Regions from separate parts of the Homo sapiens genome. Here region 2 is linked to region 1. A link means that fine-mapping ties the variant in region 1 to the expression of a gene that starts in the linked region. Tissue or cell type: whole blood. Region 1 holds a variant in brackets; the other region holds the start of a gene. All regions are shown on one strand. Distances are from middle to middle.

The links. PIP is the estimated chance that this variant, and not a neighbour inherited with it, causes the effect.
Region 2: it holds the start of ERCC1, and the variant in region 1 is fine-mapped to the expression of ERCC1 in whole blood (TOPMed, PIP above 0.99).

What each region holds. Positions count from the first base shown.
Region 1 is chr19:45,446,223-45,452,090 of GRCh38, reverse strand. It overlaps a transcript of ERCC1 not described here. Among named protein-coding and RNA genes, the nearest start is that of MIR6088, 13 kb to the right of the region's middle. RefSeq lists silencers at 893-942, 1,103-1,232. The variant G/A (reference allele first, on the strand shown) is at 2,879.
Region 2 is chr19:45,421,445-45,426,349 of GRCh38, reverse strand. It overlaps ERCC1 (ERCC excision repair 1, endonuclease non-catalytic subunit), which reads left to right and starts at 2,433. Exons shown (of 10, transcript NM_001983.4): 1 at 2,433-2,569; 2 at 2,969-3,080. The coding sequence starts at 2,976. RefSeq lists enhancers at 1,705-1,999, 2,248-2,297, 2,358-2,447.

The sequences.
Region 1 (5,868 bases):
GTGGCGCTTGCCTGTAGTCCCCACTAGTCGGGAGGCTGAGACGGCGGGGATCGCTTGAGCCCAGGAGTTTAAGACTAGCCTGGGCAACACAGCCAGACCCCATCTCTAAAAAACAAACGAAAAAACCAGAAACACACACACACAGAACCAGAAATGCACGGCTAGAGGCAAAACCGTGCACATCCATGGGTACTTATACAGGCATTGTTTCACATAGATGACCACATGCAAGACTCACAACTGCACACACATTCATATCTACACAGTCAGCAGGGCTACACACTCCCATACACCCAGATACACAAGTGCAAACCACAGAAACCACTCACTGAGTCCTGCAGTTTTGCTCTCACACAGGAAATACCAGATGTGCACATTGTCACCGACTGTTGCTCACCTATAGTCACATCCATTCACACTGTCACACACTCAATTTCTTCTCTCTGCTCGGAGATTCGCCCCAGCCCTGGTCACATGAAGCTACTGGATGGGGGGGTGTTGGGAGTGTGTGTTGGGGATGAGTTGTTAGAACCTCCCAGCTGTGGACAGCTTCCCGGACACAGGATGGAAGGACCACGGGCTGCCTGTCTCTTGAAAGAGGCTCGAGAAAGACAGGCAAGAGAACCCCAAGGGAGCGGGGAAAGGAACGGGAGGGCTTTGGGGCTGTGGCTTGAGTGTGAACAGATTGTCTCCCCTTGTCTGTCTGTCTCCCCTGGTGGGGACCCCAACCGCAACAATGCACCCGGAAATCCGGCAGTCCAAGGCAGAAACGGCAGGCCAGCGAAGTGTGTGCTTGTCCCTATTTTGGTTGTGATGGTTTGGGGGGGATATGAGACAGCCACAGCGCGGGAGGCGCTGGACAGACGGACATGCCGGGGAGGAGGGGGCGCAGACGGACAGATACCCGAGCGGAGGCGGTCCCGGGGCAGACAGGAGGAGCGGGCGACAACAGACGGCGGCTGTCTAAAGGGAAACCGGTAATTTGGGAACCCGGTTCTCCCCCGCTTCCATCACCGCAATCCCCTCCACCCCCCGCCCCGGGCTCCCGGCGGGCCGGTCTGTCCGCCCGGGCCGGTCCTGGCTGCGCCCTGTGCGGCCGCGCCACCCAGCCCGGGACAAACAGCCCTCGCGTTGCTAGGCGACGGCGTTCCACAGTCCGTCGCGTCACCGCGTCTGCGCGGGCGTGGGGGGGGGGGGGGGGGGCGGGCGCACGGAGACGGCGGCCGCGTCGTTTGTTGACGTTGCCCGGCAACCGGCGCGGCGCTGCCGGGCAACGCCGGCCGACTGTTCATTCTCTCTCTCTTTTTTTTTTTTTTTTTGAGACGGAGTCTCGCTTTCGCTCTGTGGCCCAGGCTGGAGTGCAATGGCGCGATCTCGGCTCACTGCAACCTCTGCCTCCCGGGTTCAAGCGATTCTCCTGCCTCAGCCTCCACAGTAGTTGGGATTACAGGTGCGCACCATCACGACCAATTTTTGTATTTTTAGTAGAGACGGGGTTTCGCCATGTTAGTCAGTCTGGTCTCGAACTCCTGAACTCAGTTGATCCACCCGCCTAGGCCTCCCAAAGTGTTGGGATTACAGGCGTGAGCCACCGCGCCCGGCCTGGACTGTTCATTCTCTTAAAGGAGCAGGAGCATTTTACAGCGCCGACCTCGGCCGGCCGCGTGGCGGAACTGAGGCGTTAGAGGGAAAGAAGAGGGTTCCTTCCCTGGCTCATGAAGGTTTAGGGGATTGGAGGCTGGGTTAGCCTTCTTGAGGAAGAGAAAAGATATAAGGCGGGAGCTCTGGGTATTTCAACTAGAGTGTTTGGAGATGTTAGTGCAATATTGATTGCACGTGTGCATAGGCATGCTTGTGGACCTGTATGCATGGGAGTAGGTGATAGAGATACAGGGCTAGCAAGGACTGGGTTTAGTTACCCACTCCGGAACCTTGACCTGTGACTTCCTCTGAGCCTCCTTCCTTCCTGAAATGGAGGTGATAACATCACCCACCCCTAGAATTGTGACCATCAAATCCGGTAAAGCACTTAGTACATAATAAGTGCTCCGTATAAAATAGGTTTAATTATGTTATTTAATAACTGGATTCTGTCCCTAACTCGCTGGGCTTTTTTTGTTTTGTTTGAGATGGAGTTTTGCTCTTTTTGCCCAGGCTGGAGTGCAATGGCATGATCTCGGCTCACGGCAACCTTTGCCTCCCATGTTCAAGTGATTCTCCTGCCTCAGCCTCCCGAGTAGCTGGGATTACAGGCACCCGCCACCATGCTGGGCTAATTTTGTATTTTTAGTAGGGACGAGGTTTCACCATGTTGGCCAGGCTGGTCTTGAACTCCTGACCTCCAGTAATCCACTCACCTCGGCCTCCTAAAGTGCTGGGATTACAGGCGTGACCCACCGCGCCCGGCCATTTTGTTGGTTTTTTTTGAGACAAGGTCTCATTCTGTTGCCCAGGCTAGAGTGCAGTGGTATGATCACAGCTCACTGCAGCCTCACTTCCTGAGCTCAAGCAATCCTCCCGCCTCAGCCTACCAACTAGCTGGGACTATAGGCACTGGCTAATTTTTTAATTTTTAATTTTTATTATTTTTTGTTTTTAGAGACGGGGGTCTCATTATGTTGCCCAGGCTGGTCTCGAACTCCTCCTGGGCTCACCCAATCTTCCTGCCTTGGCCTCCCAAAGTGCTGGGGTTGCAGGCGTGAGCCACAGCGTCCAGCTCCTCACTGGGTTTTGGAATACATAAGACGGTGTTTGTAAAGTACTTACTGCAGCCCGGTGCACTCAATACACAGCAGTCGTTGTATTACTAGAGGTGTTTTTATTATTGTTTCCTCCACTCTGTAAAGGATCACGTGATAAGGCACTAGCAGATGTGGTT[G/A]GAATCCTTGCTGTGCTGAATCCTGGCTGTGTGACCCCAAGTAAGTGCCTTGCCTTCTCTAACCCTCTGCTTCCTCTTCAGTGAAATGCATGATCCCTTATCCTTCACAATCACTTCCAGGTAAAGGTCCTGGGCGAGGGGTCCCCTCTCACTGGGCATGTCAGGTCAGTGCCCCGTGTCTGCCGCATGACTCACAGGGCTACGTTATGTAAAGCTCCTTGATTCTGCACAGAGGGCAGGTTATATAAACGTATTTAATGTGCATCCTACATATCAAGCCTGGGGAGGAGACCTGGCTTGGTAAGGCTGAGATTGCTAAACCATGGCACTGGCTGTTTCTGGGAAGTAGGGCCTATTAAAGCATGGGCCAAGGAGACGGTATTGTCTCCTTCAAAAGAAAATACATCTCTCCTGGGGCGGGGTGGGGGGTCTTTCTAGGCCCCCAAATAGCTTTTTGTCTTTCTCAGCCTCTGATGTGTGTTTATCTCTCTCTGCATTTTTTTTAAATTAATAAAAACTTTTTTTTAAATAAAGATGGGGTCTTACTATGCTGTCCAGGCTGGTCTCAAACTCCTGGGCTCAAGAGATCCTCCCATCTCCGCCTCTCAAAGTGCTGGGATTACTGGCGTGAGCAACTGTGCCCAGCCTCTCTCTTCTTTTTTTCTGAACCCTATCTCTGATCTCTCTGTCTCTGTCTCATCATCTCTATGTATCTCTGTCACTTTCTGCTTTTATTCCCGTGAGTCCCTTTCTGGGTCTCTGTCTCTGTTTGTGATTTTCCTTTATTACTTAACTCTCCCTCAGGTTGTTTCCAAACATTCTTAGGAGAAATCTGAGTAGCACCAAGCCCCTCGCAGCTGACTGCTGTGTGATGTTGGGGTGAGCTGTCTGCTCTCTGGGCCTTGACTCTTCTCTGTCTGTAAAATCAGATGCAGTAACTAGTACAAGCAGGCAGGGGTCCCAGTCACTGGGGAGTATTTTAAAGGTGGGTTCCTCCAGTTCCACACCCACAAGCTGTGGGTCAGAATCTCAGAGAAAGACGACCGGGCGCGATGGCTTATGCCTGTAATCCCAACACTTTGGGAGGCCGAGGTGGGTGGATCACCTGAGGTTAGGAGTTTGAGACCAGCATGGCCAGCATGGCGAAACCCCGTCTCTACTAAAAATACAAAAATTAGCCAGGCTTGGTGGCATACACCTGTAGTCCCAGCTACTTGGGAGACTGAGGCAGGAGAATCACTTGAACCTGGGAGGCAGAGGTTGCAGTGAACTGAGATTGTGCCACTGCACTCCAGCCTGGGTGACAGAGCAAGATACTATCTCAAAAAAAAAAAAAAATCTCAGAGAAAGAAGCCCAGAGAATTATGCTATGTGAGTTACTCCCCAGGTGATTCTGAGCAACCAGCCAGAATTGCCGACCTGGGGCTGGACACACCTGTCCAGAGGCCAGGTTCTCATGGTACATAATAGGTGAGGTCCTATGGAAACACACAGCCAGGGACAAGAGTCATTCTGCGGCAGTTAGAGGATCCTGAGTGTGGAGGCGTGAGAGAGACAGAGCTGGGTCAGAGTGAGACAAAGGTCAGAGATAGAGACAAGAAAAGAAAACAGAGAGATACAGAGACATAAAGAGATAGACGCCCGGCACAGTGGTTCACGCCTGTAATCCCATCACTTTGGGAGGCGGAGGCAGGTGGACCACCTGAGGTCAGGAGTTCAAGACCAGCCTGACCGACATGGTGAAACCCTGTCTCTACTAAAAATACAAAATTAGCTGGGTGTGGTGGCACGTGCCTGTAGTTCCAGCTACTCAGGAGGCTGAGGCAGGAGAATCGCTTGAACCTGAAAGGGAGACGTTGCAGTGAGCCTAGATCCCGCCACTGTACTCCAGCCTGGATGACAAGAGCAAATCTCTGTCTCAAAAAAAAAAAAAAAAAAAAAAGAAGCAAATCTGTGTTTTCTGCACACTGCCTGAAAATGCATTCCCAGAGCAGAAGGCCACATTTCCGTGTGTATGCGTGACTGTGTTTCACATGTTGCTGCACGTAGTGCTGGGGTGTGCCAGGCCTAGGCCGTGATTGGATGTGGGAGCCAGATGCTGGGCTGGGAGGTTCTGGGTGGACCCTCTGTGCCTGTGCCAACCTGCCTCTAAGCAAGTGTCCTGGGCCAGCATTCTCCCCATCTGGCTCCTACTTTCTTTTCTTTTCTTTTTTTTTAGACAGAGTCTCACCCTGTCACCCAGGCTGGAGTGCAATGGCGCGTTCTTGGCTCACTGCAACCTCCACCTCCCGGGTTCAAATGATTCTCCTGCCTCAGCCTCCTGAGTAGCTGAGATTACAGGCGCCTGCCACTGCGCTCAGCTAATTTTTGTATTTTTAGTAGAGATGAGGTTTCACCATGTTGGTCAGGCTGGTCTCGAATTCCTGACCTCGTGATCTGCCCGCCTTGGCCTCCCAAAGTTCCGGGATTACAGTTGTGAGCCACCTCTCCCGGCCCAGCTCCTACTTTCTACACCGGCTCCATGTGACTGATGAGGACATGGCTCCGGGAGTCCTGGGGCCCACATGGATGAGTACAGGTTTAGATGTAAATCTAGGCACTGAGAGTGTTATGTTCGGGTGTGTGGGCTTGGGAATAGCCGTCCCAATAGAGGGGTACCATCTTTGGAGCTAGACTGAGCCGTGAGACCTTAGGCAAGTTAAGCGACCTCTTTGGGCCTCAGTTTGCACATCTGTAAAATAGGGATGTTAACTTTTATGGGGATGTGGTGAGTACCACCTAACATAATGGAAAGTGCTGCCATCTACTGATGGCTTGCTATGAATGTGCTTGTCAGCAAATTTTGCCTCTCTTAACTCAAAGGCCTCCAGAATCGATCCCTACTACCTCCTAGTCCAAGTCACCATTGGACTCAACTGGACCATGACAGTGACTGGTCTCCCTGACTCCACACTTGTCCTCCAAAGTCTATTCCCCACCTACAACCCAAA
Region 2 (4,905 bases), 25 kb after region 1:
TGGAGTCCAGTGGCACAATCTCGGCTCACTGCAGCCTCCGCCTCCCAGGTTCAAGCGATTCTTCTGCCTCAGCCTCCTGAGTAGCTGGGACTACAGGTGTGCGCTACCACGCCCAACTAATTTTAGTATTTTTAGTAAAGACGGGGTTTCACCATATTGGCCAGGCTGGTCTTGAACTCCTGACCTCGTGATCCGCCTGTCTCGGCCTCCCAAAGTGCTGGGATTACAGGTGTGAGCCACTGCACCGGGACTCTAATTTTGTATTTTTAATAGAGATAGGATTTCTCCATGTTGGTCAGGCTGGTCTCGAACTCCTGACCTCAGGTGATCCACCCGCCTAGGCCTCCCAAAGTGCTAGGATTACAGACATTAGCCACCATGCCCAGAAAAAAAAAATTAAGTAAAATGGGAAAATGTAGACACAGATAGACACCCATAGATGAAAGACTGATGTGAACAAAGAAACAGAGGGATGTCATGTACATGCAGGCAAGAATAAATAAAAAGATCAATGAACATAACAGAAATGTCAGAAATAGACGTGTGTGTATGGGAATTTGGTATGTGATAAAGGTAGAATTTCAGAACAGTGGAGAAAAGATCTACCTTTGGTCAACTTGAGACAATTGGTTACATCACTCATAAACAACGACCTCGGTGCACTTTCAAAAATAAATCTTGGCCAGGCACCGTGGCTCATGCTTGTAATCCCAGCACTTTGGGAGGCTGAGGTGGGCAGATCACTTGAGGTCAAGAGTTCGAGACCAGCAGGGCCAACATGGTGAAACTCCGTCTCTACTAAAAATACAAAAGTTAGCCTGTAATCCCAGCTACTTGGGAGGCTGAGGCAGGAGAACTGCTTGAATGTGGGTGGCGGAGGTTGCAGTGAGCCTAGATTGCTCCATTGCACTCCAGCCTAGGCAACAAGAGCAAAACTCCATCTCAAAAAATAATAAATAAATAAATAAATCTTACATAGATTAAAGCCAGATGACCTGCTCATTCTAGGTCATTACTGTTTGGGACCGTGTCTGTGTCCCTCACTGAACTGTAAGCTCTGGGAGGACAACACGGGGCTTTTATCTTTTACGTAGATAAAAGAAATGATAGAATATATCATTATAGCCGTGCACTGTAATCCCAGCACTTTGGGAGGTCACAAAGTGACCTCAGGATCAGCTGAGGTCAGGAGTTTGAGACCAGCCTGGCCAACATGGTGAAACCCCGTCTCTACTAAAAATACAAAAAAAAAAAAAAAAAAAAAAAATTAGCCGGGCATGGTGGCACATGCCTGTAATCCCAGCTACTAAGGAGGCAGGAGAATCGCTTGAACCCGGGAGGGGGAGGTGCAGTGAACTGAGATCGCGCCATTGCACTCCAGCCTGGGTAATAAGAGCGAAACTCCGTCTCGAAAAAAAAAAAAAAAAGAAAAAAAAGAATTTATCATTATGACCCTGGGTTATGGCAGGGCTCTTAACACACCAAAAGCAAAAGTCAGAACGGAACAGATTGATAAATAGTTGCGCATAAACACAAATAACTTCTGTGCCAAAAATAACTAAAGTTAAAGCCCAAAGTAGAAACTAGGAGGAAATGTTTGCAATATGGGTAACTAAGGATTAGAATCAGAATCCATAAAGTACCCCTAGAAATTAATAGTAATAAAAAAGCCATACAACCCATTTTAAAAATGGACAAGGAATATGAGCAAGCAATTCACAGAAGACAAAATTTACAAGACCAATACTTTCACAAAAAACATTCCATTTCCTTAGTAATCAGAGAGCTGCAAGTTAGAACAGTGTGATACTATCCTTTCAGGAAGTGACTAATACTAACTCATCAGCCAGGCCCCTGCTCAGATGTCCCTTCCTCCAGGAAGCCCTTCCGGACTCCGGGGCTGAGTCAGGCGCTCCCCCTGACCCCCATCCCACGGCTCTCCCGGGATCTCCCATCCCAGACCTGCCCATTCTGGGTCAGCACTGGGAACGTGTCTGTGTCCCTTACTGAACCGTAAGCTCCGGGAGGACAACACGGGGCTGTCGTTGGTCACTGCTGTGTCACCAGCACGGACTCGCACAGGACCGGGAAGAGAGGAAGCGCGTGGGGGGAATAGGTGTGGAATAAATGAATGAATGAGGAAACTGAAGCCAAGTCAATGTCTGAGTTGGATTCAAACTTAAGTCTCTCCTTACTGAGAGGAGGGACCAAGTTGGATCTCCTGCGATCTGTTCTCCACTGAGCCCTGCCAGGATTCTGGGCACACAGAAGCGCTCAGTAAGGGCTTTGAAACTTAACAGTTTGGGAGCCAGATCCTCAGGCCACATCTCTCTCCTCCCACGACCTCCGCGGTCCTCCAGAACCATAGAGAGTTGTACAGAGATCGCCCTGCTCTATGCTCTACTCTCCTGGGGAGCGGGGCCAGAGAGGCCGGAAGTGCTGCGAGCCCTGGGCCACGCTGGCCGTGCTGGCAGTGGGCCGCCTCGATCCCTCTGCAGTCTTTCCCTTGAGGCTCCAAGACCAGCAGGTGAGGCCTCGCGGCGCTGAAACCGTGAGGCCCGGACCACAGGTGCGGGAGGCGGAGACTGCGGGTGGAGATTGGCGCCGCGGAAGCCAATCATTGCCGAGTCTGAGAGATGGACAAGGCCAGGCGTGGGGAGGGCGTCCAGATGCTAGCCTCGGGGGCCGGACGAACGGAAGGCGGGGGATGGTGGGGACGGAGCCAATAGAATCCGGTGGGGGCGAGGGGCGGAGCGATGGGACTTGTGGACCTGTAAGGGGCGGGGCGAGCCGAAGGTGGAGGTCAAAGGGGCGTGGCGTTACAGAGCCTCTAGCGCTGGGTGTTGGGGACCTGACGCTATGGAGCTCTCGGAGTTTTGTGGGGGACGGCTGTGAGTGGGGGGTTCCTGCTGCGGGATGAGAACGTAGACGCCAGTGGCTCACTCGCTCCTGGCACCTTCCCTTTCAGGCTCCAGATGGACCCTGGGAAGGACAAAGAGGGGGTGCCCCAGCCCTCAGGGCCGCCAGCAAGGAAGAAATTTGTGATACCCCTCGACGAGGATGAGGTCCCTCCTGGAGTGGTAGGACAAGGAGATGCGGGGCCCCTGGGAGGCTGGGGGCTGTTAGGACGAAGAGGATAGGATGGGGCCTGTGGGACCAGGGTGTGGGTTAGTGGATTTGGGGGCCACGGACGACTTGGGGAAACAGTCCTTGGTCCTCCCCAGGTCCCAGTTTCCCCATCTGTGAAATGGATGGGTGGTTCTAAGAGAGGGCTAAGGCAGAGGCCAGACACTGGCATTCAGCAGGTAGCCCCTGATGTGTTTTACGAGGCCAGCACCCTGATTTTTCAAGACATGAATTTATTGCTCGTGTTTAAGAATCGCCAGGTTTTGCAATCTTAAAAAAATCTACACTTTAGACATATTTTGGTAAATGGAAGGACCTGGCAATATTGAAATCTCCTTCCCAAGGGAAAACAATCGACGGGTGATGAGCATTGGCTATGAAGAAAAGGAAAGTGGGCTAAGGATGTAGGGCATGATGGGGGAGAGGACCTTCCTACTCTATTTATTTATTTATTTATTTATTTTTTTGAGACAGAGTCTCGCTCTTTTGCCCAGGCTGGAGTGCACTGGCACCATCTCGGCTCACTGCAACCTCTGCCTCCTGGGTTCAAGCGATTCTCCTGCCTCAGCCTCCCGAGTAACTGGGATTACAGGAGCGCGCCTGGCTAATTTTTGTATTTTTAGTAGAGACGGGTTTCACCATGTTGGTCAGGCTGGTCTCGAACCTCAAGTGATCCGCCCACCTCGGCCTCCCAAAGTGCTGGGATGTACAGGCATGAGCCACCATGCCTGGCCCCTTCCTACTTTAGATAGGAAGGTCAAGGGAGGGCCTCTCTGAGGAGGTGACATCTTGGTAGAGACGTGAAAGAGGTGAGGGAGTGAGCCATGGCGACATCTGGGGTAGAGGGAACAGCCAGTGCCAAAGCCCTGAGGTCAGAGAGAGCCTGCCGTGTTCAAGGGCAGAACGAAGTCTGGTGGGGCTGGAGTAGAGAAAGCAAGGAGAAGTGGTAGAAGGTGTAGTTTCTGAGGCAAGGAGCAGGGACAGATCTAGAGCCTTGTGGGTGATGGTGACAGCTTTGGCTTTCACTCTGAGGCAGGAGCCACCCACCAGCTCTGAGCAGAGGAGGGACATGAGGACTTAGTTAGGGGACAGACTTCCAGGGGGCGAGGGTGTGGGCAAGGAGCTGGTGAGGAAGTGACTTCAGTGGTCCAAGGGTGAAACGCTGGTGGCTGGGACCAGAGTGGAGGCTGAGGAGTGGGGGAGAAGTGGCTGAATTCAGATTTTGAGCTCTCAGCCTTCTGGAAGGGACATTAGGAGGAAGGAGGATGGGCAGCCCTGAAGAGGGGAGAGGGGTCAAGTGCTGTGGCTCACACCTGTAATCCCAGGACTTTGGGAGGCCGAGGCGGGCGGATCACCTGAGGTCAGGAGTTCGAGATCAGCCTGGACAACATGTTGAAACCCTGTCTCTACTAAAAATACAAAAATTAGCCAGCGTGGTGGTACACGCCTGTAGTCCCAGCTATTTGGGAGGCTGAGACAGGAGAATCGCTTGAACCTGGGGGGCGGAGGTTGCAGTGAGCCGAGATCACGCCACTGCACTCCAGCCTGGGTGACAGAGCAAGACTCCATCTCAAAAAAAAAAAAAAAAAATTAGCTGGGCGTGGTGGTGGGCACCTGTAATCCCAGCTACTTGGGAAGCTGAGGCAGAATTGCTTGAACCCGGGAGGTGGAGGTTGCAATGAGCCAAGATAGTGCCACTACACTCCAGTCTGGGTGACAGAGCAAGACTGTCTCAAAAAAAGAAAAAGAAAGGGGAGAGGAACTCACAGGGCCTCAGAT